Linked DNA regions of Homo sapiens. The protein of the gene in region 2 interacts with the protein of the main gene of each other region in a pairwise test. Each region holds a gene or a part of one and is shown on either strand. Other genes may lie near its edges. The genes, in order: SLC35B2, TEX29, CMTM7 and CLEC7A.

Region 1 (7,599 bases), on a different chromosome or scaffold from region 2:
GCCTAAGGTGACTTACAAGAAAAGCAGAGAGCTACTTTCTTCACCTTGCTTCCAGAATTGGGATCCCAAGAGCTTGGTGGGGGAGGGGTGTGACAGGGGAAGGGCTCGGTAGTATTTCCTTGGAAGAACAGGTTATGGCCTTTATAAGCTGCTTTCAAAGAAGATGCTGGCAGCTGGTGATTCTTGAGCCCAAGCATGTTCCCAGAGGTGGGAGCATGCTGCAGTGGCCCCATGACCCTCTATTTGTGCCTCCAGACAGCACTCCATCTGGCTGTACATCTGGACCAACCGGGCGCAGTTCGGGCACTGGTGCTGAAGGGGGCCAGCCGGGCACTACAGGACCGGCATGGTGACACAGCCCTTCATGTGGCCTGCCAGCGCCAGCACTTGGCCTGTGCCCGCTGCCTGCTGGAAGGGCGGCCAGAGCCAGGCAGAGGAACATCTCACTCTCTGGACCTCCAGCTGCAAAACTGGCAAGGTGTGGACAGTCTTTAAGACTGCCCTTAGGGCCTGTGGGATGAGGAGGGCATAGGAGATAGGGACCTCACTCTTGGGGAAGGGAGGGTCCCAGCTTGTCCATTGGTGCCCCTCCCACTGTAAGCACATAGATATTCAGTACATCTTTGCCAAATGAATGAATGGATGATTTGATTTCGAATTTAACCAGTACCTACTGCCTGCTGAGAAGAAAACTAAATCTTGCCCTTAAGATACTTAGTTTAATAGAGATTAGATGACCTGATTCATTCATTCAACAGAAATGTACTGAGGGTTTTCTATGTGCCAGACGTTATCCTAGGAGCTACACTTGCATCTGTGTGCAAAATAGAGAAAGATTGAGATGAGCAATAAATGTAAGAAGTGAACTATGTAATATGTTAAAAGGAAGTAAGTGCTGTAGTAAAAAGCAGAGCAGAGTGAGAGGAAGGAATGTGGGGAGTAGGAGAGTTGATATGATTGTTAAATAGGGTGGTCCGGGAAGGCCTCATGGAGCCAGTGACATCTGAATAGCGCCCTGAGGAAGGTGAAGAATGTAAATTTGAATCGAAATCTCTATTACTAAGCAAGGGTCGGGAGTGTCCAGACTAGAAAGGAGAGCAAAAAGGCCAGGGGAGCACAGAAGGAAGCGGCCCCTGAGAAAGGGCTGGGGGCATGAGGATCTTAGGTGGCTTTTCAGAAAAGGTGGCTTTCAGACTGGGCTTGAAGGCAGGTTGTGTGTGTGTGTGTGTGTGTGTGTGTGTGTCTGTATGTGTGTGTGTGTGTGTGTGTGTGTGTGTTGTAGTTTGTGTATAGGAGGAGGGTGTTCTTTGGGGGTGTCACTCAGCAGCCTGACCCCTGAAGCATGAAAGTTTCAATAACATGACTCTGAAAAGGTGGAAACTTTGAGTTCCTTTCCCCTTAGACTTTTGAGGGGGTTTTGGGGTTTGCATTTTAACAGTCTTGTGATTAGAGACATTGAGTGGGCTGTGAGTCCCTTGGGGCTGAGTGGTAGGGAGGTCCCAGAAGAGAGGGAGTTGGTGGATGCAGATCAGCAGCCCTCACCCTCACTCTCACCCCATCCCAGGTCTGGCTTGTCTCCACATTGCCACCCTTCAGAAGAACCAACCACTCATGGAATTGCTGCTTCGGAATGGAGCTGACATTGATGTGCAGGTGAGACAGCCAGCAAAGCACTGCCCGGCCCAGGGCCTGCCCCCACCTGACACATCCCCAAGTCCCCTGCCCAGCAGTCAGAAGTGGTGGCATTCACTTCCTTATCCAGAGCCCAGGCCCAGCACACTGCCTCTGAGGGCCTTGGCTGACATCCTTATTCCTCCCCAGGAGGGCACCAGTGGTAAGACAGCGCTGCACCTGGCTGTGGAAACCCAAGAGCGGGGCCTGGTACAGTTCCTGCTCCAGGCTGGTGCCCAGGTAGATGCCCGCATGCTGAACGGGTGCACACCCCTGCACCTGGCAGCTGGCCGGGGTCTCATGGGCATCTCATCCACTCTGTGCAAGGCGGGTGCTGACTCCCTGCTGCGGAATGTGGAGGATGAGACGCCCCAGGACCTGACTGAGGAAGTAAGTGGCATATGCTTTGCTCTCCAGGGCCTTGCACACCCATAGCAGAGAGAGGTTCTGTCATTAGCTGAAAGGGCCAGGGAGCCAGGAGTCCTGGGGTATAACCAGGACTCTGCCACTGACCAACTGTGGGAACTTGAGCCTGTTTCCTTAGTTGGTCCAAGGAGCCAAATTTGGACTCTTACAGGGACCCTGCAGTTAAAGTGAATCAGTGAAGTTGGCCAGATATGAGACCATGGTGTGGTGAGGCCTATAAGAACCCAGAGAGCCATCCCTGAGGGTCTCTGTACTCAGCTTCAGCAAAGGCTTACAAAGCAGGAGTGTAGGCCCAGTTTTTCCTGGTCTTGGACTTTCTTGAGAGGTGAAACTCAGATTTTCTGTACAGTCTTTCCTATTTTTAAATGTTCAGTGTAAAAAAGAAACCTAAATGTTCTGCGAGTACCCAGCAGCCCCCCCACCCCATCCCCCAACAACAACAAACAACTCCAGGTCCATGGGCTGGATCACCTCTAAGGGTCCCTCCTAACTCGGATATTCTGGCATTATCTTAGAAAAGGAAGGCTTGTCTAAGTCCTCAGGGCTCTGCCAAGCCCAGAGGGGCCACTATTTTGAGGATTCGTGTGAAGATTTGTTCCCTGATGGTCTTCAACTGTCATTTGGTGGGGAGGGAGTGGCCCAACAGGTTTCCCTGGGTCCCCTTTCCCAAGTCACCTTTTCCCATGTCCTCTGATCTTGCTTCTCTCCATTCTCCTTCTCAGTCCCTTGTCCTTTTGCCCTTTGATGACCTGAAGATCTCAGGGAAACTGCTGCTGTGTACCGACTGAAGCCAGGCAGGGTCTGGGATCCTCAGGGCTCCACCTCTCCATCTGGAAGCCGGAGCCATAACTGCTGCAGTTTGGGCCCAGGCTATGTGCTCTTCTGGTGCCCTAGGGACTGCTGTGGCCAGAGCCTGGGGCCAGCCAGTACAGTCCTGAGCCGAGGAGGAGGGACTGCAAGTGGAAGAGAGCCAGTCTGGAAGGAAGAGCTTTCCAGGTGGACAGGGCTTCTTGGAAGACCCCCAAAGCCCCAGGTATCCTGGGTGAAGCCTGTTTGCCTCTCTTGAAAATGGCAGGTGCTCTTGTTTTACCCATGTTGGGTCAGCCTGAAACTGCCAACCAGTAGGAAGCATGGACTCTCCTGAGTGAGAAGAGACTGAAATAGGAGCAAGCAGAACCCTGAGAGGTGTCCCATCTTATTGCTGTTGAGGACCCTGAAACACCGTTGTTTAAAGACTTCACACAGAAGGCTCTGAACTGAGCCACTGGGGAAGGGAAGTTTCAGTAACATGACACTAAAATGGCAGAGACGTTAAAAAAAGTTTTTCCCTTCTAGAGCTGTTTTGCGCGCATGCATGTCTGTGTGCATTGGGGCTTTTTAGACAGGCCTGCCCTGTGACTTTGTGGTAGAGGCAGAGAGAAGGAAATTGTCCCCTGAGCACGGTAGGGCCTTGCTGGGTGGGGTCAGAGGCCAGTAGTTCCAGGCCTTTCTCTGTGTCCAGCACAGACCCTTGTCCTTGCTGTGGAAATGATGAGGGATGGAGGGACAAGAGGAAGAATGAGAGGACACACGCCCTGGAGCCCTCACCACTGCCCTGGGGGTTGCCATCTGGAGGAGCCTGGGGATAAGGGTAACCCAGGGAGGCTGGGCACGAGGGAGCTGACTCCACGTTTTTCCCCCCGTTCCTCACCTTCGAGGGCCCTGCTAGGTCACCCCTATGCTGGCATGAAGAGCATGGGGCAATAAACCAGCACAGTCTCTGACCACTTGGAGCGTCTCATCCAGTGAGAGAGACAGCCGTTAAAAGCATAAACATCCAAATAAAGATGCCTTTCCAAGTTGCAGTGGGTGCTATGAAGGGAAAAGAATAGTGGGAAGGAAAAGGATGGAGTCGGTAGAGGGTCATACTTTGGGTGGTCCGGGAACCCTCGCCTGAGGAGTATCATCTCAACTGGGATGTAAGGATGAGTAAAGGGATGGGGGCAGAGCATTAGGGGGAAAGCCTGTGAATTAGAGGAACTGAGAGCAAGCCAGTGGGGCTTCACAGCGGGCGAGTGAGTGGGCGAGGAACGCGGGCGAGGCCATGTAGAGCCTCGAAGATCATGGGAAGTGGGACAGAATTACTACCCAGCCAACAAAGCAAGGAGACACCTTCATCCTGTCAGAAAACGGGGAAACTAACACAGAGGAGCGGCTTGGGATGCAGAGCCTCAATGTCCTGTCCACAAGATGGCAATGGTCACCATGACCTCTGGGACGCTTATGAAGGGCGATGACGAAGCACAGGGGACACGCCGGGCGGGCGCCTCTTCAGGGCTGGGGCTCCCCGCGCCCAGGGGCAGCCCAGGTCCCCGGAACCCAAGCCGCGTCTGCCTCCGGGCCGCGCGGGGGCGCTGTGGTCCGGCGGCGGCCCGGGGCGCTGCGTGGTCGCGGCAGGGGCGGAGGGGGCCGCGGGGAGGGAGGCGGGAAGAGCGCGGCACTTCCGCTGGCCGCTGGCTCGCTGGCCGCTCCTGGAGGCGGCGGCGGGAGCGCAGGGGGCGCGCGGCCCGGGGACTCGCATTCCCCGGTTCCCCCTCCACCCCACGCGGCCTGGACCATGGACGCCAGGTGGGGGCTAGGGCAGCAGCGAGCTCACGTGACCGAGCCCCCGGGCCACGTGACTGCCGCGCCTCAGCACGGGGGCCGGGTGGGGTCCCGGCTGCTCGGCCGTCGGCCAGCATATCGCTGCCCGGAGCCAGCGGGGATGGGAGCTGCGGCTTGGTTTTGTGCTCCTTGGGGAGCTTCGGGCGGAGGGGCTGGGGACCCTGACGTCCCGGATCGTGGAGGGGAGTGTGGGGGAAGGGGCGCTTCCTCTGACCTGAGCAGCCGGCTAGCGTTGGAGGGAACAGAGGAGACCTGTGTGGCCAGAGGGGCGGATCCGCCCCCGGGGAGGGAGGAAGCTCTGCCTGGCCAGCGCCGGCGCACCCCCTCCCCGAGAGAGAGAGAGAGAGAGAGGCTCTTTGTCCGGGCCGGAGCTGCAGCGGAGGGGGCGGGGAGGAGACTCCGGGCACTACTCCAGTGTGGTCCCCTCTGGAGGGCGGAGGGGATGAGGAGCTGCGCCCTAATCCTTATGTCCGCTTTCCTTACAGATGGTGGGCAGTGGTGGTGCTGGCTGCGTTCCCCTCCCTAGGGGCAGGTGGGGAGACTCCCGAAGCCCCTCCGGAGTCATGGACCCAGCTATGGTTCTTCCGATTTGTGGTGAATGCTGCTGGCTATGCCAGCTTTATGGTACCTGGCTACCTCCTGGTGCAGTACTTCAGGCGGAAGAACTACCTGGAGACCGGTGTGTGAAGAAAGGGCGGGGAAGTGAGCTAGGTCGGGAAAGAGGGTATTTGGCCAGCAGTCCAAACGGGATATGACTTGGAGAGGGCGGGAGGTCGGTAGGCCGGACAGCAGGGCAGGCTGGCTGCTCTGGGGAAGATGAAGTGCTATGGAGAAGATTTGGGGCTTGACTTTGTGTGCTTTCTTCAGGTAGGGGCCTCTGCTTTCCCCTGGTGAAAGCTTGTGTGTTTGGCAATGAGCCCAAGGCCTCTGATGAGGTTCCCCTGGCGCCCCGAACAGAGGCGGCAGAGACCACCCCGATGTGGCAGGCCCTGAAGCTGCTCTTCTGTGCCACAGGGCTCCAGGTGGGTAGGTGGGCTCAGCCTCTCTTCCTGGGTTGGATGCCGGTGGGCAGGGATTCTGTGAAGGTTTCCATTTTACCAGTCCCAGAGCTTTGCTGGCTGGTGTGTTTCGTGTCCTCCTCCCAGGGGCACACTGCACCTCCATCTTTGAGGTGTTTGGGGGAAATGCCCTTTTGTTTCTTCCTTTTCTCCTCTCCAGCACTGGTACTGAAAGTTCATGCTGTTATTTCAAGATGTCTAGTGCAGAAGAGAGGACTCCTCTTGCCCTATTCTCTGTGATTTCTACTGTGCCGTTATTATACTTCCTTCCTGCACTGGTGTCTCACATACTGTAAACCCACTGATAAAATTGTGGGGGAGCCATTCAGCCTTCCCCCAGTACTGCATGTGAGAGAGTGCTAACATGCTGACCCCATGGCATTTTGCAGTGGGTACTAGTTCCACCTTGAATATCATGTTGAACTACAGATACCCAATTCTGAGAGTTCTTGCCTCCCTGAATAGGTTTTTCACACACAGTTGATTCCCTACAAGGTGAATCCAGACTTAGGAGGGGAGAAGAAACTTCTACAGAGGAACCAAAAAGTGTATATTTTCCTTTGAATCACTTAGGCATAATCCTGAAGAGAGAGAGGTCAATTTTTGTCTACCTTTTCATTATCTTGCTTATTGTCTCCTTTGTCTCTACCTTCCCCAACAGGTGTCTTATCTGACTTGGGGTGTGCTGCAGGAAAGAGTGATGACCCGCAGCTATGGGGCCACAGCCACATCACCGGGTGAGCGCTTTACGGACTCGCAGTTCCTGGTGCTAATGAACCGAGTGCTGGCACTGATTGTGGCTGGCCTCTCCTGTGTTCTCTGCAAGCAGCCCCGGCATGGGGCACCCATGTACCGGTACTCCTTTGCCAGCCTGTCCAATGTGCTTAGCAGCTGGTGCCAATACGAAGCTCTTAAGTTCGTCAGCTTCCCCACCCAGGTGCTGGCCAAGGCCTCTAAGGTGATCCCTGTCATGCTGATGGGAAAGCTTGTGTCTCGGCGCAGCTACGAACACTGGGAGTACCTGACAGCCACCCTCATCTCCATTGGGGTCAGCATGTTTCTGCTATCCAGCGGACCAGAGCCCCGCAGCTCCCCAGCCACCACACTCTCAGGCCTCATCTTACTGGCAGGTTATATTGCTTTTGACAGCTTCACCTCAAACTGGCAGGATGCCCTGTTTGCCTATAAGATGTCATCGGTGCAGATGATGTTTGGGGTCAATTTCTTCTCCTGCCTCTTCACAGTGGGCTCACTGCTAGAACAGGGGGCCCTACTGGAGGGAACCCGCTTCATGGGGCGACACAGTGAGTTTGCTGCCCATGCCCTGCTACTCTCCATCTGCTCCGCATGTGGCCAGCTCTTCATCTTTTACACCATTGGGCAGTTTGGGGCTGCCGTCTTCACCATCATCATGACCCTCCGCCAGGCCTTTGCCATCCTTCTTTCCTGCCTTCTCTATGGCCACACTGTCACTGTGGTGGGAGGGCTGGGGGTGGCTGTGGTCTTTGCTGCCCTCCTGCTCAGAGTCTACGCGCGGGGCCGTCTAAAGCAACGGGGAAAGAAGGCTGTGCCTGTTGAGTCTCCTGTGCAGAAGGTTTGAGGGTGGAAAGGGCCTGAGGGGTGAAGTGAAATAGGACCCTCCCACCATCCCCTTCTGCTGTAACCTCTGAGGGAGCTGGCTGAAAGGGCAAAATGCAGGTGTTTTCTCAGTATCACAGACCAGCTCTGCAGCAGGGGATTGGGGAGCCCAGGAGGCAGCCTTCCCTTTTGCCTTAAGTCACCCATCTTCCAGTAAGCAGTT
Region 2 (7,024 bases):
TGCGCGTGCCTGTGAGCATCTGTCGGCCACTCTGGGACTGAGCGCACTGCCTTGCATGAGGGGCTCTCAGGCAGCTACGGCCTATGCTTTGGGGCCTCTCAGATCCAGATCCAGACGCTGCTCCTCCCTCGCAGCACGGCTGAGTCCTAGCAAAGCCAAATGCCAGAGTCTTGAACCGCCTGTGTCTGTGTGGCAGCCCACTCTTGGTGAAAGTGCAGCCTGCCTTCTGAAAAGAAGACCTCGAGGACACCACCTTGAGCCCATGCTGTGAGCCCCCATAGTGTTAATATTAGTGACAAGCAGTGCCATTAAAAACTGAAAGTTCAGGTTCCCACTCTCCTACCCCACAGGCTTTCTCTCTCCTAAGATAAAAATATAGCAATGAATAAGCAACATCGGACGAGAAGCAATTTTCAAAATACCTTTATTTTTTTCTCTTTGGGTGGTCATTCCATCACACTGTTAACAGTGCACCTGCTGTACCATTTCATTTGGATAATTCTGACAATCTCCACTTCTTCATGCGTCTCAGTCAGTCCTCAGTTTCTTCGGCTTCTGTTATTGTCCCTGTTACTAGATTTTTAGAAAAGAAGAATTGTTTTTTCAAATGGAATATTCAGCAGTCCCGAAAAGATTTCATCAGGATCTTTGAACCCATCTACATGGTGTCTGATTGGCAATGATTGATTCAAAAGCCAGTTTTGGGGATGGCCGTATCCTCCTATGTTTCTCATTGCATTCTAGGGGACAGTAAAACACTCTTCCTCCCACATCATCTCTCTACACAGGAGGCTCCCTTAACCAGGCAAACATCTGTCCTGCAGGAAAGCCTCATTTGCACAGACGCAGCCTCAGTTAGGGGCCAGGCATTCCAGATCTGAAATCAAGTGTGGGTTGCCCTCTTACCCTGCCTCCTGATTTTCCTGATGGTCCCTGTAAAGCCAAGTCTATTTGGTAACAATGGGTAAGGCCAGGCCGTTTGTATCCTGTACAAACATCTCTGAAGATAAGGATTACCATTTGAGATGTTTCTTTCTCTAACCTGGCAAGGTGCTGATCTAGGAAAAGCAACCGGCAACCTCCAAGGGCCCCCAAAGCAGGTAAACCAACATATGAGAAACTTTCCTTCCTGGAAACCGAAGCAGGCATAGAGTGATCGTCCACCTCTCCAACCACGACCACCACGTGGCCAGGGCACCACAAAGAGTACCCACAGCAGCCCTGCAGCCTCCCCGCACATCCACGACCACCAGGCGGCCAGGGCACCACAGAGAATACCCACAGCAGCCTGGCAGCCTCCCTGCACAACCAAGACCACCACGTGGCCAGGGTGCCACAGAGAGTACCCATGGCAGCCCTGCAGCCTCCCCACAGGAAGTCACCTGATCAAATGTGCAGTTTCTGCAGGACTCTTGCCCCCTCCCCAGGAGCTTCCCACACTAACAATGAGGGCCCCGCCAGAGGGTGAAATGACAGGGAGGCAAAAGGGGATGGGAAGGGGGAGGACAAGACTCACAGAAGGAAACTCACACTGACAGCCACATCCACCCTGCAAACCTGAACCTCCAATGTTGGGTACATTACAATTTTGAACAAACTGCAACACTGATCACTGAGGTTGAAGGGCCTGTGTAGATGTTGAGCCCCTTCCCAGGGAAGGTCTCCCGAGGGAACAGAGCCACGCCCTTGACCTTAGGCTGAGGATCATTCCAGAAGCTTCTCACCATCATCCTTATCCTCGTCACTCTTCATCGAGGGCCCAGCACTTGGAGGCCCAGGACTCGCAGGCTTCAGCCCTAACTTGCTGCTGGATGAGGCCAACTCCGCCTTTTCGCTGGACTTCTGTGGCAGCGCGACATCCACAGGGATGGCCTTTTCTTTCCTGCTCTCCTGAATGACTCTGATGGGAAGAGGGTTTTATCACAGTCAGGGAAGTTACAGATGGAAAACTCTCCAGTTCCTCCCTCCCACCCACCAGGACATCCCTCTGAAAACACAGGTTCCTGATCATGCATACTTATTTTTTAAGGTAAATGCTTTGATGTAATAGTTCTCATTTTCGTTTCTTTCTCTCTCTCTTTTTTTTTTTTTTTTTTTTGAGACAGTTTTGATCTGTCATCCAGGCTGGAGTGCAATGGCACAAACACGGCTCACTGCAGCCTCCAACTCCCGGGCTCAAGTAATCCTCCCACCTCAGCCTCCCAAAGTGCTGGGAGATTACAAGTATGAGCCACCACATCCAGCCTCATTTTAGTTTCTTGTGCAGGCTCCAAACAGATGGCTGTATGAGGCAGCTAGACTCCCAAAGACAGCTCCGGGCAGGGGGAAGGTGTGTGTTGCACTGCAGGCTACTGCCGGCTCATCTTCATGATTAACACACATAAGACAGCATACAGCACCACTCATGGTAGGAAAATGGCTTTACTCATTCCTGGACAAAGAGACTCAAATAATCTCAGGGGCTTGTATGCACACAGAGTGGGCTCATGGTGAAGGTGGTGGCCGGGGAGTGAGATGCTGGATTCCAGCCCTGCCCTGGGAATAGCCACCTGCTTCCTTGGCCCCCCGGGTCTGCATTTCCTCACCATTAAAATGAGAGGGAGTGGACTCATCTCTGAGACACCTCCAAACCCTGACACCCTGCAATGAGGACGCAGGCCACAGGCCAAGAGATGCAGGCAGCCTTGGGTTCAGGGACTCTGAGACAACTGGGAGCCTGAGTTAGAGCCTCACTGCCCCATCCATCAGCCTCGGGACCCCCTCGATGCTGCGTCAATCATCCCAGTCCGGGGACAGTAAGTTCACTTACATCGTCAGTGGCTTCAAGGGCTGAAAAGGCTGAGCAGAGCTCTTAAGAGTCTTAGGTGCTCACTAAACACGGGTTATGATGTTCATCAACAAGCACAGGTGCTCACTAAACACGGGTTATGATTTTCATCAACAAGCACAGGTGCTCACTAAACACGGGTTATGATTTTCATCAACAAGCACAGGTGCTCACTAAACACGGGTTATGATTTTCATCAACAAGCACAGGTGCTCACTAAACACGGGTTATGATTTTCATCAACAAGCACAGGTGCTCACTAAACACGGGTTATGATTTTCATCAACAAGCACAGGTGCTCACTAAACACGGGTTATGATTTTCATCAACAAGCACAGGTGCTCACTAAACACGGGTTATGATTTTCATCAACAAGCACAGGTGCTCACTAAACACGGGTTATGATTTTCATCAACAAGCACAGGTGCTCACTAAACACGGGTTATGATTTTCATCAACAAGCACAGGTGCTCACTAAACATGGGTTATGATGTTCATCAACAAGCACAGGTGCTCACTAAACACGGGTTATGATGTTCATCAACAAGCACAGGTGCTCACTAAACACGGGTTATGATGTTCATCAACAAGCACAGGTGCTCACTAAACACGGGTTATGATGTTCATCAACAAGCACAGGTGCTCACTAAACACGGGTTATGATTTTCATCAACAAGCACAGGTGCTCACTAAACACGGGTTATGATTTTCATCAACAAGCACAGGTGCTCACTAAACAGGGGTTATGATTTTCATCAACAAGCACAGGTGCTCACTAAACACGGGTTATGATTTTCATCAACAAGCACAGGTGCTCACTAAACACGGGTTATTATTTTCATCAACAAGCACAGGTGCTCACTAAACACGGGTTATGATTTTCATCAACAAGCACAGGTGCTCACTAAACACGGGTTATGATTTTCATCAACAAGCACAGATGCTCACTAAACACGGGTTATGATTTTCATCAACAAGCACAGGTGCTCACTAAACACGGGTTATGATTTTCATCAACAAGCACAGGTGCTCACTAAACACGGGTTATGATTTTCATCAACAAGCACAGGTGCTCACTAAACACGGGTTATGATTTTCATCAACAAGCACAGGTGCTCACTAAACACGGGTTATGATGTTCATCAACAAGCACAGGTGCTCACTAAACACGGGTTATGATGTTCATCAACAAGCACAGGTGCTCACTAAACACGGGTTATGATTTTCATCAACAAGCACAGGTGCTCACTAAACACGGGTTATGATGTTCATCAACAAGCACAGGTGCTCACTAAACACGGGTTATGATGTTCATCAACAAGCACAGGTGCTCACTAAACACGGGTTATGATTTTCATCAACAAGCACAGGTGCTCACTAAACACGGGTTATGATGTTCATCAACAAGCACAGGTGCTCACTAAACACGGGTTATGATTTTCATCAACAAGCACAGGTGCTCACTAAACACGGGTTATGATTTTCATCAACAAGCACAGGTGCTCACTAAACACGGGTTATGATTTTCATCAACAAGCACAGGTGCTCACTAAACACGGGTTATGATTTTCATCAACAAGCACAGGTGCTCACTAAACATGGGTTATGATTTTCATCAACAAGCACAGGTGCTCACTAAACATGGGTTATGATTTTCATCAACAAGCACAGGTGCTCACTAAACATGGGTTATGATTTTCATCAACAAGCACTCTGGAGAAAATCAGTGGGGCCCTCCGTGAGCCTGGCCAGTTCCCTTTCCCAGGCTCACGGAGAGCTGTTCTCAGTCACCCCAGCAGCACCAAGCCCGAAGGAGCCCAGGCAGGCAGGAAGCTGCGGCCAGGAGAGGTGAGTCCCCTCCTCCCCACCCTCCCAGTAAAGAACAAAGGGACCGACCTGTAGATGATGGTGATGACGAAGGCCCCAGCGATGATCACAATCAAGGCAGAGAACACGTGGATGTAAACTGAAAAATGGTGGGATTTGAAGTCATTTCGATCCAGGTAAATAGAAAAGGAAGAAGATGAAGAAAAGGCAACCCTCCCAGAGTCGGGTGCGGGCCCTCCCGGCGCGGCTGCCCATGGTCAGCACTCCTCACCCACCCTCCCCAGCGTCTCCTGGAGACTCAGCTCTGTGGACATCTCCAAAGGCCCCCGCAGGCAGGCGAGGGCTCCCTGTGAAAGGCAGCTCCAGGTGGTAGTCAGTGCCACCCAGAGGACACCTTGTGACCACCCTGACCCCCGGGAGTGCATGGAGAGACGGCACTGGGTCCTGACCCCCGGGAGTGCATGGAAAGATGGCGCTGGCTCATGACCCCCGGGGGTGCATTGAGAGACGGCGCTGGCTCCTGACCCACGGGGTTGTGCTGAGAGATGGCGCTGGCTCCTGACCCTCGGGAGTGTGTGGAGGATAGATGGTGCTGGCTCCTGACCCCTGGGGGTGCGTGGAGAGATGGCGCTGGCCCCTCTGTTCCTGCTGTGCTCCCCAGCTCCCTGGAAATGGCTCCTCAATGCCCAGGTCAATTCCTCCCCTAAACTGAATACAAGGAAAACACTTATTGGATCATAGACAAATCCTTGACTGGGCTTCCTTGTATTAAAAGGGGTTCCTGCAATCCCCAAGTTTCCCGTGCCTTCTCCAACCCAGCCTCAGCAAAAGTCAAGCCTCCCCAGGTGGCCACGAGGGGCAGCCCCGCCACCCTGGGTTTCCCTGCGTGAGTGCACTCCCAGCCTCTCCAAGACGGGGGTAACTGGGAGGAGGAACTGCTCAGCCCCCTCCTGAGCCTCTTTCTGAGAGACTGCCCACTGCTCAGCAGGCAGGGCCCTGTCTGTGCAAGAGGCCTGAGGGGCGCAGCACCGCCCAGCACCGAGGGCTGATATCTGGATCTCCGTCGGCTCATTGGTTCAGGACTTGGACCCCTCAAGTCCTAACATTTGTACACGAGCATCATTCCTCTCAGAGTCCTTGGTCAAATAATATCCTCATCTACTGTTTGTTCTTCTATGTTCCTTCCGTCAGGTTGATGTAAGGAATTTTTTAATGAATGCAAGTAAAGTTCTTAAGTGGTTGGCTAATCACATATACAGAGTAATTCTTATTGTTGTTATTATTATCAATATTAGTCTCTTCTCTAATTGCTTTCTTACTCTCTCAAAGAAACTGGCTGACTTGCAAATATCAAGTGCAGGTGACACGATTTGCTTCAATTCCCATACCTCCCCTCCTGCTAAACTGCTTCCAAGTCGTGAAGCAGTAACAACACCATCAGATGTAATTTCCCTGGATGGTGTGTCAGTTTGCCAGGGATGCTGTAAGAAAGTACCATGCACTGGGGGGCTTAAAACAATAGAAATTGATCATCTCATGGTTCTGGAGGCCAGAAGTCCAAGAACAAACTGTCAGCAGGGCCGTGTTCTTTTCAAAGGCTCCCGGGAAGGGTCCTCCCTGGCTTCCTCCTAGCATCACAGCAGTCTCTGCCCCTATTGTCACGTGGCTGTCTTTCCTCTGTCTCTGTGTCTCTTCTCTTTTTACAAGGACACCAGCCATTTTGGATGGAGGGCTCACTCTACTCCACTATGATCTCATCTTACCTAATTACACCTGCAAAGACCCTTTTTTCTAAATTAGGTCACATTCACAGGTACCAGGGATCTAAACTTCAACATATGCATTGGGTGTACACAATTCAACCCACCCCAGAAGCAAGGCCGCAGGTGCAGAGAAAGTGGCCTCCTGGGCACATGAGCCAGCTTCCGAAGGGATCCGCACTCCCTGGACTCATCACAGGGCCACCAGCAATGGATGAGGTGCCCAGGATTCTTTCCATGGGGACTGAAGTCAGAAAACTGAGAGGGGATTGAAGCCAGCTTGTGAGGGTAACCCACATCCTCGATTTTCCTCATACCGAGGTGACCTCAGTAAGGAATGGTGAAGTACCCAATGGGCGCTCGATAAGAGTTCCTCACAGAGAGGCTGGAGGAAGGGAGCGAGGCTTGGGGTTGCAAGCTGTCAGATAACAGGAATGTGCATGTACCGAGGAGCACACTGGGAAACTGCTTGTCAAACATTCTTCCAATCAGCTGCCTTATTTCTTTAAGTGAGGACTGTCCCGTGGAAACTTGCTTACCTGAGGAGGGGAAACAGTGGGGCAGACTCACCTCCAAATATCCGGGGCTACCATAACCAGCTTCCAGGATG
Region 3 (7,024 bases), on a different chromosome or scaffold from region 2:
ACAAATGGCCAAAAGCACATGAAAAGATGATTAACATCATTAGTCACTGGAGAAATGAAAATCAAAACCACAGGAAATAACACTTTACACTCACTAGAATGGCTGGAATCAGAAAGTCAGATAATAAGTGTTGGCAAAGATGTTGTGAAACTGGAACCTTCATACACTCCTGGTGGGAATGTAAAACAGTGAGCCACTTTGGCATACAGTCTGGCGGTTCCTCAAACAATTAAACACAAAGTGACCATATGACTCAGTAATTCCCCTCCTAGATACATACCAGAGAAAAATGAAAATATGTCCACACAAAAAACTTGTATATGAATGCTCATAGCAGCATTATTCATAATAGCCAAAAGGTAAAAACAACCCAAAGGTCCACTGAAGATGAATGAAAAACAAAATGCAGTCTGGTCTATCCACACAATGGAATAAAATTTGGTTATAAAAAGGCTGGCATGGTGGCTCATGTCTGTAATCCCAGCACTTTGGGAGGCCAAAGTGGGAGGATTGCTTAAGGCCAGGAGTTTGAAACCAGCCTGGGCAACACAATGAAACCTCATCTCTGTAAAAAAAAAAACACAAAAATTATCCAGGTGTGGTGGCATGCACCTGTAGTCTCAGCTACTCGGGAGGCTGAGGTGGGAAGATCACCTGAGCCTGGGAGGTTGAGGCTGCAGTGAGTCGCGATCACGTCACTGCACTCTAGCCTGGGTGACAGAGTGAGACCCTGTCTCTAAAAAGAAAAAAAGGAATGAAATACTGATACCTGCTACAACATGGATGAACCATGAAAACATTCAGCTAAGTGAAAGATGCCAGTTACAAAAGACCACATATACAATTCCATTTACATGAGACGTTCAGAGTAGAAAAATTTTAGAGACAGAAGATTAGTGATTGCTTAGGACTGGAGGGATGAGTGGTAGGGAGGTGACAGCTAAAAGGTATGGAATTTCTTTCTGAAATGATGAAAATGTTCTCAAGTTGACTGTAGTAATGGTTGGACAACTCTGGAAATATACTAAACTCCATTGAATTGTACCCTTGAAATGGGTGAACAATACGGCATATGAACTGCATCTCAATGAAGCTTTAAAAAATAATACAGTGGGAAGAAAAAGTCTGGCAACTTCTGACTGTCTCCTCAGCCCCCACTAGTCTCTTTTAGCCAGAAAATCCTATCATTCAATCCTCACAACAGCATCAATACCCATCATCTTCACCTACAATTTCCTTCCGTGTTCCTTTTCCCAACTCATACACACACAGCCATTCTCTGTTGCTTGAGAAAGTAAGCATGGGGCAATAGCCACAGCCTTCTTCTTTTTTTTTTTTTTTTTTTTTTTTTTTTTGAGAGGAGTCTCGCTCTGTCACCCAGGCTGGAGTGCAGTGGCTCGATCTCGGCTCACTGCAAGCTCCGCCTCCCGGGTTCACGCCATTCTCCTGCCTCAGCCTCTCTGAGTAGCTGGGACTACAGGCACCCGCCACCACGCCCGGCTGATTTTTTGTATTTTTTAGTAGAGACGGGGTTTCACCGTGGTCTCGAACTCCTGACCTCGTGATCCGCCCGCCTCAGCCTCCCAAAGTGCTGGGATTACCAGCGTGAGCCACCGCGCCCGGCCAGCCACAGCCTTCTTGTAGCTGGAAAGTGAGTTTTAAAAACCAGCAGGACATCAAGCAGAGATGTCCACCAAACAATAGGAAATTCAGGGCAGAGGCAGCAAAGAATGGTTAAAGAGGTGAGATGGGCAGACGGGAAAAACTCTGTCAGGTCTCAGTACTCTAGCTAACATCCTGACTTGTGCATGCGGAGGACAGGGCCAGACCACTCTCTTACCGACAGGGGCCAGCTGATACAGGTGAGCACGCGGTAGAAGCGGAAGAGGTGGACCAGGTAAAAGGCGAGGATCATTATCAAGTCGCAAATGGTGACCACTTCAAAGTAGCTGTAGGCGCTGTAGTTGGTCCACAGGGAGCTCCGCACACAGATGAAGGCAATCAGCAGGGTGACCTGCCACATAAATAGAGACATCAGAGAAATGCTTGCCCAAGACGGGCACCCAGGGAACAAACAACGGAAAACAACCAAGCATCCCCCAGCAGGCCCACATTGAAGAACTGCTATTAATACAATTCAGGTTATTTCCATACACACTGGCTGGAAGGTTGGAAGACTGCAACTTCATGTGGTACACACTTTGAAACTACTGTCTGTGAACACTGATGACAGCAGAGACTGACTTCGTCCTCTCTGAAGTTTGTTAGATTGTGCCAGCGGGAAGCCCCCTCAGAAGAAGCAGGAAAACAAGAAAATAACAAAGCAGAACCATCCCTTTCATCTGCTGGATATCCATAGAGCAAAGAGGACAGCGTGATGGTGACCTGGGGTTTACATATTAGGCCCAATTGTACGAAGTTGCCAATATTTGATGGTTTTTGACCTACAAAGATGGTAATTCATACCTTACAGCTATCAACTGACAGATAACAAGTTACCATTTACTGATGTCTGACATACGTGATCTCGCTAAGGCCATGCAGAACCCTGCCAGGTAGACAAAATCATCCCCATGTTCATAAGGGGAAACGGAGGCATGCAGGTTCAATCATCAGTCCAAGGCTATCTGGCTTGTAAGCAGAAGTGGGATTTGAATCCAGGTCTGTCTGACTCTAAGGACCATGTTCCTCCATGTCAGATGCAGTTCTACCTCCCAAAAGTGTAAGCTCTGATCATAACAAGCCGAGAAAGGTGGACGGGTTCTCAACCATGCAGGAATCCTGTTTAAGAGGTGAGGCTGCTCACCATCAGGGCATGTGGTGAGAGCTCACTAAGAAATATCTCAGCACGAGTGAACATGCTTAACGGCCTGCTACTGAATTAATAACCAGATGAAAACTATTAGCAATGCATGAGTACAAGAAAGTAGAATGAGTAACAGTCTGAGCTTCCGTGAAGGCCAAAGAGAAAACCTGTCTACTCCATGTAGGGAACAAACCAGTAACACACGGGATTCAATGTGTGTAAAATCTTAGAATCTACTTATTTATTTAGTTATTTAGTTTTTGTTTTTCTGAGATAGAGTCTGGCTCTGTTCCCCAGGCAGGAGTGCAGTGAACCAATCTCAGCTCACTGCAACCTCTGCTTCCTGGGCTCAAGTCATCCTCCCACCTTAGCTTCTCAAGTAGCTAGGATTACAGGCGTGTGCCATCATGCCTGGCTAATTTTCATATTTGTAGTAGAGACGGGGTTTTGCCATGTGGCCCAGGCTGGTTTCAAACTCCTGAGCTCAAGCAATCCCCCTGCCTTGGCCTCCCAAAGTGCTGGGATTATGGACGTAAGCCATTGTTTCCAGCCAGGAATCTATTTAAAATGCACAACCAATTTAGAAAAAAGATTATTTTATACACTGCCTCTCTCCTATGGAGGAGTGATTCTTTTTTTTTTGAGATGGAGTCTCACTCTGTTGCCCAGGCTGGAGTGCAGTAGCATGATCTTGGCTCACTGCAACTCTGCCTACGAGATTCAAGCGATTCTCTTGCCTCAGCCTCCAGAGTAGCTGGGACTACAGGTATGCACCACCATGCCCAGCTAATTTTTGCATTTTTAGTAGAGAGGGGGTTCCACCATGTTGGCCAGACTGGTCTTAAACTCCTGAACTCAAGTAATCTGCCTGCCCCAGCTCCCCAAAGTGCTGTGATTACAGGTGTGAGCCACCACGCCTGGCCAGAGCAGCGAGTCTTAAAGTGTGTGTGTGTGTGTGTGTGTGTGTGTGTGTGTGTATGCGTGTGGTGTTAGTGTATGGGTGTGTTAGCGTATGGGTATATGATTTTGTGTCCTATGGGACATTTGGCAATGTGTGTATATATTTTTGGTTTACACAATTTGCGGGGATGGGGGTTGCTACTGGCATTTAGTGGGTAGAGGCCCAGGGTGCTGCTAAGCACCCTGCAATAAATAGGAGAGCTCCCATAGTAAAGAGTTACCCATCTCCAGCCCCAAATGTGGCCCCTCAACTACAGTACTACTGTTGAAAAATTCTGCTATAGAAAATGTCAGTCTACAATGAGAATTAAATCACAAAATGGGGCCTGGTGCATGCCTGGCATCCCAGGCTCACGCCTGCAATCCCAGCACTTTGGGAGGCCAAGGCGGGTGGATCACCTGAAGCCAGGAGTTTGAGACCAGCCTGGGCAACAAGCAAGACCCTGTCTCTACAAAAAATACAAAAACTAGCTGGGCGTGGTGGCATGCACCTGTGGTCTCAGCAACTTGGGAGGCTGAGGTGGGAGGATCAATTGAGCCTAGGAGGTTGAGGTTGCAGTGAGCTATTATCACGTCACTGCACTCCAGCCTGCAAGACAGAGTGAAAGTCTGTCTCTAAAAAAATAAAAATCAAATCAAATCACAAAATGGATCTTACTCCAGTTAAAACAGTTGATGCTGAAATGCTCTTATTTTCTAAAGCCCCTTGTTGCTAGCCCACTATCAAGATCCTCAGCAATAGGTACAACAGCTAAAAGAGAACTCTCAGCTGGAAGCTTGAAGCAGGTATGGAGAGTGCTCTGCTTACCAGATCGAAACAGAAGAGTGTGGCTGTGACACAAAGAGTCCCTCAACATTTGTGTATTTCCCTTTGCTAATGAGCAACGCAAGTGTTTTCATTTTTTCGGTTCCTCTGAAGCTAGCCAGCCATGGTGATATAATGATTCACACCTCTGCCTTACTCAGGAGTGTGCATGATCGCCAGGGCTTTGCTGCTACGTTAGTCTTACTTCCAGGCCACATCTACATGGGGAAGTCTAGGGGTCTTCCCAGCCCCACAATGACCTCCTCAAGAACTCAAGTATCATTATTCAAGGCATGACTGAAAATGCAGATAATGTGGGATTATGCAGCGTGATTCCTAGGTAGAGAGGCAATTTTGCATCTAGTTTAATGCAGAGATTAAAATAATTTTCCAACTCGTCGTTGAAGACAAAGTTAGCTCTTTTTCATGGTGACACAGGGATGTGGAAGTTTCCCAGCCAACAAAAGGGGCCTGTGCAGGTCAGGTCTTCCTGCTCTGAGCCTCCAGGGCTGAGTACTGTGTAGTAGGAAGTACATTCCTGCTCTATCAGAAACATCTCGAACCTTTCTGGGAAACTTGCTCATGAAATAACACTTTCTGAATTCGGTTCACTGGGCCTATGGCCATCTACCATATGACTTTCTTTAGGAAAGCCCAATTTTAGAAAATCTAATTTAGCCAGAGTATGGTGTGTGCTTATGCGTGCTCCTAAAAGCTTCCTTTTTGCCCAGGGATTCATTCATTCCAACTTTAAATAGCCAGCATCTTAGCCAGCATATTAAGTTAAAAAAAAAAAAAAGATTTGACTGACATCAAACTTTTCAGAAATTCTTCTAAAGCCAGTAGGTAACTTCTGCAAATGCTGGGGCCCCCTGAATTATTTAGAAGCTTAATTCCTGGGTGACAAAATAATCTGTACAACAACCCCCTCCCATGACACAAGTTTACCATATAAGAAACCTACACAAGTACCCCTGAACTTAATATACAAGTTAAAAAAGAAAGCAAAGGTGAAGTGGAAGAAAGAACAAGACAATAGTGGGGAAAAGGCGCTGGGGTGTTTATCCCTGCCCTCCTCCCGCCAGCTCCAACCCTCTCAGGTGTCTTCGTGTTCCCAGTTAGAAAAGCAAATGCACAAACACGCCTGAATTCAGAGAGGACTGGAGGTAGGGGTTCTGACTTCAGGACGGAGTGAAGCAGCTGGGAGGCTCCTGGAAGACAGATGTTTCTGTGTAGAGTAACTTCAAAGTGATGCTGTCCAAAGGGTTCACTTGCCTCTTAAGGTGCCTTCTAGCTCCTCTCGTAACGGTTTGTTCTTTTATATTGAACTGTCATAAAAATAAAATATCTAACATAAATGTCCAGGGGTTTATTTTATTTATTTTATTTTTTTGAGATGGAGTCTCACTCTGTCGCTAGGCAGGAGTGCAGTGGCAACATCTCAGCTCACTGCAACCTCCACCTCCCTGGTTCAAGGGATTCTCCTACCTCAGCCTCACAAGTAGCTGGGATTACATGTATGCGCCACCATGCCCAGCTAATTTTTGTATTTTTAGTAGAGACAGGGTTTCACCATGTTGGCCAGGAGAGTCTCGATCTCCTGACCTTGCGATCTGCATGCCTTGGCCTCCCAAAGTGTCGAGAGTACAGGCGTGAGCCACCGCGCCCGGCCTATTTTTTTCTTTTGAGACAGAGTCTCACTCTGTCACCCAGGCTGGAGTGCAGTGGCGCTATCCCCACTCACTGCAACCTCTGCCTTCTGGGTTCAAGCGATTCTCCTGCCTCAGCTTCCTGAGTAGCTGGGACTACAGGTGTGCACCACCACGGCCGGCTAATTTTTATATTTTTAGTAGAGACAGGGTTTCACCATATTGGTCAGGCTGGTCTCGAACTCCTGACCTCAAGTGATCCACCCGTCTCAGCCTCCCAAAGTGCTGGGATTACAGGTGTGAGCCACGGTGCCCAGCCATGTCCAGGGGTTTAAAAGTAACACTGCAAGAGCCCTCAACTCAAAGCAAGGGTCCCACAGACCAGCCATGATACCACAGAATCACTGGAATTAGAATTCCAGATAAGAAACATCACTCCCTGGAACCTGTGTCCTTTCTGACTCCATTCTGTCAGAATTCTTACTAGAAAGAAGACATGATTTTTTGGAAGGAGCAGAGGGTTTAAATTTCACAAGAGATGAAGGAAGCTGACATGATCTGAGAAAAGTGATGGTCCCCTGAGGACTCTGGAACCAAACTAGTCTGGTTGCAGCTTGAGTGTACACCCGCAACCAGCCAGGTGCCAGAAAGTTTGCCCAGGTTCTCAGCCTGGCTGAGCATCCTTCCAGAAAGAAATGAGATTTTGAGGTCTACGATGAAAAATCTCTACAGAAAACTCAAGAGGCAGTTTTCAAGAGACGTCGGCTTCTGATTGGGCTGGGGAGGTGTCTGGTGGTCTCAGGA
Region 4 (7,024 bases), on a different chromosome or scaffold from region 2:
TCAATGGGTCTGTAATGAATGTAACTGGGATTCCAGGAGAAGGGAAAAAAGATGGGGAAAAGCAAAATATGAAGCAAGTATGGCTGAGAATTTTTCAGTGCTGAGTAAACACATTAGTTTTAAAACATATATTACCTTCAAACAGATGACCTCTCAAAAACAACAGTAAAAAATAGAAAACAGTGGAATAATATATTTGAGTGGCTGAGAGGAAAAACAACAAACCTCTAATTCTATACTTACTGGAAATATCAGTCTTAAGAAAAAATACCTGTAATGTACAGTTGGAAAGGAAGAAAGAAATAAACAACTAAAATCATAAATATGTGGGCAAATTGAAATGAATACTAACTGCATAAATCTGTGCGCCACCTTGTCTGTCTAATTTTTATATCTTTTTTTTTTTTTTGTAGAGATGGGGTTTCACCATTTTGGCCAGGCTGGTATCGAACTCCAGAGATCAAGTGATCCGCCTGCCTCGGCCTCCCAAAGTGCTGGGATTATAGGCGTGAGTCCCCGCGCCCGGCCCAAGGGCTAGTTTTTTCTTTTTTCTTTTTCTTTTTTTTTTTTTTTAATACTGAGTCTGGCTCAGTCACCCAGGCTGGAGTGCAGTGGTGCGATCTCGGCTCACTGCAACCTCCGTCTCCCGGGTTGAAGCAATTCTGGTGCCTCAACCTCTGAGTAGCTGGGATTACAGGCGTCCACCACCACACCCAGCTGGTGACGCATAGCTGTAGTCCCAGCTACTCAGGAGGCTGAGGTGGGAGAATCGCTTGAACCCAGGAGGCAGAGGTTGCAGTAGGCCAAGATTGCCCCACTGCACTCCAGCCTGGGCGATAAAATAAAAATAAATAAATAAAAATAAATACATTAATATAATAGCATATAAATTGAGGAGAGAGTCAACAGAGTAAAGGAATGCTCTATGATTTTTATATTGGTCAGGAAGAACATAAAAATGTCAGTTAATGTTAGTCTTTGATGAGTGAAGTATACATGTGTAATTCCTAGAACAACTACTAAAAGATTAGTAAAAGAGATGTAAAAGACATGAAAGAGCACATTCCAAATGAACAGAAAAAAAAAACAGAATAAGAAAAAGTGTTAAATCGTCCAAAAAGGAGGAAAGAAAGGGGAAAAAAAGTAACAATTCTAAATCTTTATGTGCCTGATAACACGGCTTCAACACATCGAATAAAATGTTTACAGAACTGTAAGTAGAATCGCAGCGGAAGATTTCAACACAATTCTTTTCATATGGAAAGAGGAAGAAGCACGTAAAAATCACAGAACTACAAGCACGTGGAGCATGTTCTCTGATCACAGTGGAACTAAGCCTGAAACCTAAAACAAAGAGATAACCAGAAACACATATGTTTGTAAATTAAGAAATGCATTTCTAAATAACTCCTGGGTCAAAGAGCAGCTCACAGTGGAAATCAGAAAGTATTTTGAACTGAAAGACAATGAAAATACATTAAAATTATAGCCTTAAGTCTACATACTTGAGATAAAGGAAGGCTTAAATTCATGAGGCAAGCACCCAATACGAGAAGTTTGAGATGGAATAGCAAATTTAAAACAAATAAATTAGGTCAGGAGATCGAGACCATCCTGGCTAACACGGTGAAACCCCGTCTCTACTAAATATACAAAAAATTAGCCGGGCATGGTGGTGAGCGCCTGTAGTCCCAGCTACTCAGGAGGCTGAGGCAGGAGAATGGCGTGAACCCGGGAGGCGGAGCTGGCAGTGAGCCGAGATCGCCATTGCACTCCAGCCTGGGTGACAGAGTGAGACTCTGTCTCAAAAAATAAAACAAAATAAAATAAAAATAAATTAGATGGAAGGAAGTAATACAGATTAGAATAAAAGTTAATGAAAGAAATAATAAAAAGACAGAGTCAACAAAGTCAAAAGTTACTTTCTTTGAAAAACCAAATTGAACGGTACTCCTACTGAGACAGATGAAAAAACACACACAGGTGTGCACACACACACTAATAATAAGAACTTAAAAGAGACATATTTCATATTCTGCAGATATTAAAAAGCAAATGAATGACAACAGCAGTGACAGAAACCACATAATAAGGAATAATGTATCATCAGGCAAATGTGAAATACGTTTAAAATATCTTTCTAAAATGCAAAATGTGAAAATGTGGTTGCTTTTTAACTTAATAATAAGTCTCACACATTAACTATGTACAAGACACTGTGCTAAATTATTTTACTTTTATACCCATCTCACAATTCTAAGAGGAAAGCACTCTTTCTTTTTTTCTTTTTTTTTTTTTTTTTTTTTGAGTTGGAGTCTCACTGGAGTCTCACTCTGTCATCCAGGCTGGAGTGCAATGGTGCAATCTCAGCTCACTGCAACCTCTGTCTCCCAGGTCCAAGCAATTCTCCTGCCTCAGCCTCCTGAGTAGCTGGGATTTCAGGCAATGCCACCACACCCGGCTAAATTTTTAGTGGAGGTGGGGTTTCACCATGTTGGTCAGGCTGGTCTCAAACTCCTGACCTCAAGTGATCCGCCCACCTGGGCCTCCCAAAGTGCTGGGATTACGGGTGTGAGCCACCACACCTGGCCAAGAGCACCTTTCTATTCTTGTTTATGGAAAATGGGACTCAGAGAGGAAAAGTGACTTATCCCCAGTGTCACACAATCAGTGAGTGGGGTAATCATTAACCCAAACTGAGGCCTGGCTTCAAAACCCATGCTCTTAACCGGGGAGTTACACTGACTGACAGTGACTGCTCCTTGCCTGGACAACTTCAAACATGTCGATGCCTCCCTAGTAAGAAAACCAGAAGAATATCTGTGTTGATGCTACTAGATGGCCTCACTCTTTTTCACTCTAAGGTCCTCCTCATCTTTCTCCTCTTGTCCTAGTTCACTCTTTCTCTTCTTCTATATCTTTCTCCCTCTCTTTCTCATATATGGTGAGCAAATCAGGTTCTTAGCTGCTCGACAGAGGTTTTCATAGATGAGATGGAAACCTCTCTGAGAAAAAGGATGAAGCATTGTCTCTCCAAACACTTACAAGTTAGAAGAGAATGTTGATCCATCCTCCCAGAGCCATGGTACCTCAGTCTGGGGCCGAGAAAGGCCTATCCAAAATGAATTATCAGGTTGGGAAGACACTTGTTTTACTATAAATCCCTGTAATGAAACATATACAAATATATAATAAAGAGAGAGAGAGAGAGAGAAAGAAACTATTATCATGGACGCTGAGAAAAAGACAACTGATTGAATCACTTTGGTAAAGAATGCAAGGCCGGGCGCGGTGGCTCACGCCTGTAATCCCAGCACTTTGGGAGGCCGAGGCGGGTAGATCATGAGGTCAGGAGATCGAGACCATCCTGGCTAACAAGGTGAAACCCCGTCTCTACTAAAAATACAAAAAATTAGCCGGGCGCGGTGGCGGGCGCCTGTGGTCCCAGCTACTCGGGAGGCTGAGGCAGGAGAATGGCATGAACCCGGGAAGCGGAGCTTGCAGTGAGCCGAGATTGCGCCACTGCAGTCCGCAGTCCGGCCTGGGCGACAGAGCGAGACTCCGTCTCAAAAAAAAAAAAAAGAATGCATGCCTAACCTGACATCAACCTAGAGAGAAGTGCCAATTTTTGAATGTCATTGAATGTCTCAAAAGGCCTATCTTATTTATTTAAAGTAATTATCATTTAATTTTCCAAAAGAATAGATTTGTAATGTGAGGACTGTACTGCCTCCATTCAACCTATCTGACAAAATCCCAGATGACAGTCCCCCTAGGCAGTTTTCATGGATGATTAGCCATTGTCTTCTCCTCCAATTGAAGAAATAAATTGACGCTACTTTCGTTAAGAAGTACTTCTCAGAGTTAGGTAACAACTTAAAAATAATTTAGTCCAACTGTATATTTTATGAATATGTAATCTGAGGTTCAGTGAAGATATCTGAATTGTTTACAAATCTATAACAATTTATTTTCAATTATAGGCTGGCCTAAAAGTCAGATAGACTTGTAATCCAGTACTCTTTCTTTGCCATATATCTAGTTCCATTAACTTTAATATAAATTATTACTACTGGGTAAGACATTACAGAAACAAAAACAAAATAAGAATAGTGAAAGTAGGTGTAGAAGTTATAGACTGGTTTAGATTTATAACATAGAATTTTTCCTATTAACCCCTTATCTTACCTCATTGAAGCTCTACCCTTCATTCATGATGTGTTATAAGTGCCACTTTTTCTGAAAACTTCTTAGGAACACGGGGATCTCTTTAAACTCCTATAGAATTTATTGCTAATGCCAGATATTTAACTTTTAATAGCTGCTGAGTTGCTTTTTTTTTACTTAAAAGATTATATGTGTCCTGTGATAGCAGGGTTATGTTTTAACCCTCTTTGCCTTTCCCAGTATCTTGCAAAGAGTAAATAATTTCTAAACATATATTATCATTGTTGCCATTTTTCTTGATAATTATGATGACAAGGAGAAGAATTTTCTACTTTACTTCCACCATATTTAAAAATTGAAATACAAACTCACAAAAATGGGTAGTGTCCTGATTATTGTAGTCATGCATACATGGAGTATGTTTGAAAGGATTTGTTTTAAGGCGAAACACAGTTTTTTAAATTAGTTAAAAATAAAAGCATATACTATGCACTTTATGTGCTTAAGGCATGCTATGATTATAATTATAGAGATATTAAAAATGAATTTTGGCCAAGTATGGTGGCTTACACCTGTAATCCCAACACTGGGAGATCGAGGTAGGCAGATCGCTTGTGCCCAGGATTTTGAGACCAGCCCAGATGATATGGAGAAACCTCGTCTCTATGAAAAATACAAAAAAACATTAGACGAGTGTGGTGGTGCACCCTGTAGTCCTACCTACTCAGGAAGCTGAGGTGGGAGGATCACTTGAGCCTGGGATGTCGCGGCTTCACTGCACTCTAGCTTGGGCAACAGAGTGAGACTCTGCCTCAAAAAAAAAAAAAAAAAAAGACTTCATTTTAGGAAAAATTGTCATTACCTGGAATCTCCCTCTATCTTCCTTCAGGATACACACCACAGATAATCATAACAGAAGTCTACACTTACCAATTCATTTGAGCTGTCTATCTTTAGGAGATTAGAGCCCAGTTGCCAGCATTGTCTTTTACTTCCATCCCAGGAATTTAGTGACATGCTGAATAGATAACAGCTCTTCTCATATATAATCCAATTAGGAGGACAAGGGCTGGAAAGAACCCCTGGAAATAAAAGATTAGTACCATGAGGTTCATAGCATACCAATTCACTCTTTTAGTGTGAACACCATTCATCTTAAGGACACTTATGAAATAACCAATTAGTTGCCATTTTTATATTTCATTGTCAATTCGAACTACAGGGATATGATTTTACAGATGAGAATACATTAAAATCTTCCTATTCATTTAAAATTTAAAAACAAACTAGCTATAAATAGTATTTTAGGCAGCCAACCATCCTTTTTTTCTTCACTTGTCTTCTATTCCTTCTAATTCAGCTCAAAACTACCTTTCTCCTTAATAACTCCTTAAAATAAGTCCACTCACAATCAGTCATTGAGGTACACAGCAATTTCATATTGCTACTTATTTTATGATGTAAGATCTACTTCATAATGTGACTTTCCAAGTGAGAAAAGTATAGGCCAATTATTCATATTATACACTATCTCTGTTATATATTATTAGCTACTTAATAAAAATAGTGAGAAGGTATGGGTCCAGAGATGAAAAATTGAACTGAAAACATTAAGTCATAGTCAATTATGATGCAATTAGAAGTAAAAGTCAAGTGTGTATAGAATTGTAATTAAGTAAATGAAATTGTATGATTAAACAAATTTGATGAGTTTTCAGGGACATGTGTATTAGGTCTACCTCTTTTGTATATTTTTAATATAGCTTCCTTATTCTTGGCAACATTTTCCCTTCTTTCCTTTCTCCCTGTCATTCTTCCTTTCTAATGTCATATTTCCTATTCTAACTGTATCGCATTTAAAATGTCAATTCTGTAAGGGGAGAGAACACTTTTCTTTTATTTGTATCAAATTATATGATCTCCTGTAGATCTAAGCACATAGCCAGTGATAAATCAGTTACTGATTTTAAAAATTAATAAAGTCCAATTTAGAACTGTCCAGCCAACTGCATAGGGTACTTATAATTTCACCTTATTGTATATATGACAGGGATACATTACACTAAGGTAATACTAATATGTGTATTTGCCTTAAATTTACAATCATTGAATCTAAGTGTTTTTCTTTACACCCCTGCCCCAGGCTTCAGCACCAAGAATTAACCCTCTTGAGTCAAGATTCCGTCCTTTAACTATGCCCTTGCCTGTGGTTTTGACAGCTTTGGTAGGAGTCACACTGTCTTCTAAAGATGATTGTGTGGGTTGACTGTGGTTCTCTTTATTTCTTGATAGAAAGTAGCCATTCTCCAATGTGTTGCTTCCTGAATTGGATCTCCAAATAGCTTCACATACCAACAATAATAATAGTGACAGAAAAAATGTCATTCTGCTGTGTTTGAAAATTAAAATCCCAAAACCCAAATGTTATTGGAATAAAAGAATACATTATTGATTAATGATAAATAGATGATATATTGCTGTGGAGAGATAAAGACGATTGATAGAATAGATGAAAAGAAATACATAACTTTTATAAAGGAGGTATAGTAAAAAAAAAAAAAGAAAAGAAAAAAGAAGGTGGAGAAGAAGAAATAGAATGAGGGAGGCAGCAAGAGGCAAATGTCATAGAGTCAATTGGACCCATGACAGATTTGAAATAGCAACATCTTTCACCTTTCTTCTGTTATTTAAAAATGAGAGATCCTTGAGAAACTGCCCAGTACCTATAACATAGAACGCACTCAATAAACATTTGACTAATTAAGGAATGTCATGAAGACTCTCTGAAGGTGACTGACAACAGATTGCATGTGATATAAAATGTAAAAAAAATATTAATCCATTACAAAATATCGAC

What was found.
Region 1: the proteins of TEX29 (region 2) and SLC35B2 interact in binary tests that used the Homo sapiens proteins (3 or more experiments, as listed by UniProt).
Region 3: the proteins of TEX29 (region 2) and CMTM7 interact in binary tests that used the Homo sapiens proteins (3 or more experiments, as listed by UniProt).
Region 4: the proteins of TEX29 (region 2) and CLEC7A interact in binary tests that used the Homo sapiens proteins (3 or more experiments, as listed by UniProt).

What each region holds. Positions count from the first base shown.
Region 1 is NC_000006.12:44,254,505-44,262,103, reverse strand, and holds the start of SLC35B2 (adenosine 3'-phospho 5'-phosphosulfate transporter 1), read left to right. Parts: upstream 1-4,575; 5' UTR 4,576-4,693; coding exon 4,694-4,704; intron 4,705-4,815; exon of another isoform or gene 4,816-4,922; intron 4,923-5,225; coding exon 5,226-5,419; intron 5,420-5,607; coding exon 5,608-5,762; exon of another isoform or gene 5,763-5,766; intron 5,767-6,459; coding exon 6,460-7,398; 3' UTR 7,399-7,599. Other genes in the region: NFKBIE (NF-kappa-B inhibitor epsilon), read left to right, coding at 256-478, 1,565-1,653, 1,822-2,061, 2,820-2,885. UniProt on the Homo sapiens protein: Probably functions as a 3'-phosphoadenylyl sulfate:adenosine 3',5'-bisphosphate antiporter at the Golgi membranes.
Region 2 is NC_000013.11:111,337,632-111,344,655, reverse strand, and holds the end of TEX29 (testis-expressed protein 29), read right to left. Parts: intron 5,363-7,024; coding exon of another isoform or gene 5,218-5,362; intron 4,794-5,217; coding exon 4,724-4,793; intron 1,901-4,723; coding exon 1,725-1,900; intron 574-1,724; coding exon 533-573; 3' UTR 408-532; downstream 1-407.
Region 3 is NC_000003.12:32,436,830-32,443,853, reverse strand, and holds part of CMTM7 (CKLF-like MARVEL transmembrane domain-containing protein 7), read right to left. Parts: intron 2,015-7,024; coding exon 1,841-2,014; intron 1-1,840.
Region 4 is NC_000012.12:10,120,200-10,127,223, forward strand, and holds part of CLEC7A (C-type lectin domain family 7 member A), read right to left. Parts: intron 6,510-7,024; coding exon 6,372-6,509; intron 5,250-6,371; coding exon 5,098-5,249; intron 4,975-5,097; coding exon of another isoform or gene 4,888-4,974; intron 3,165-4,887; coding exon 3,046-3,164; intron 1-3,045.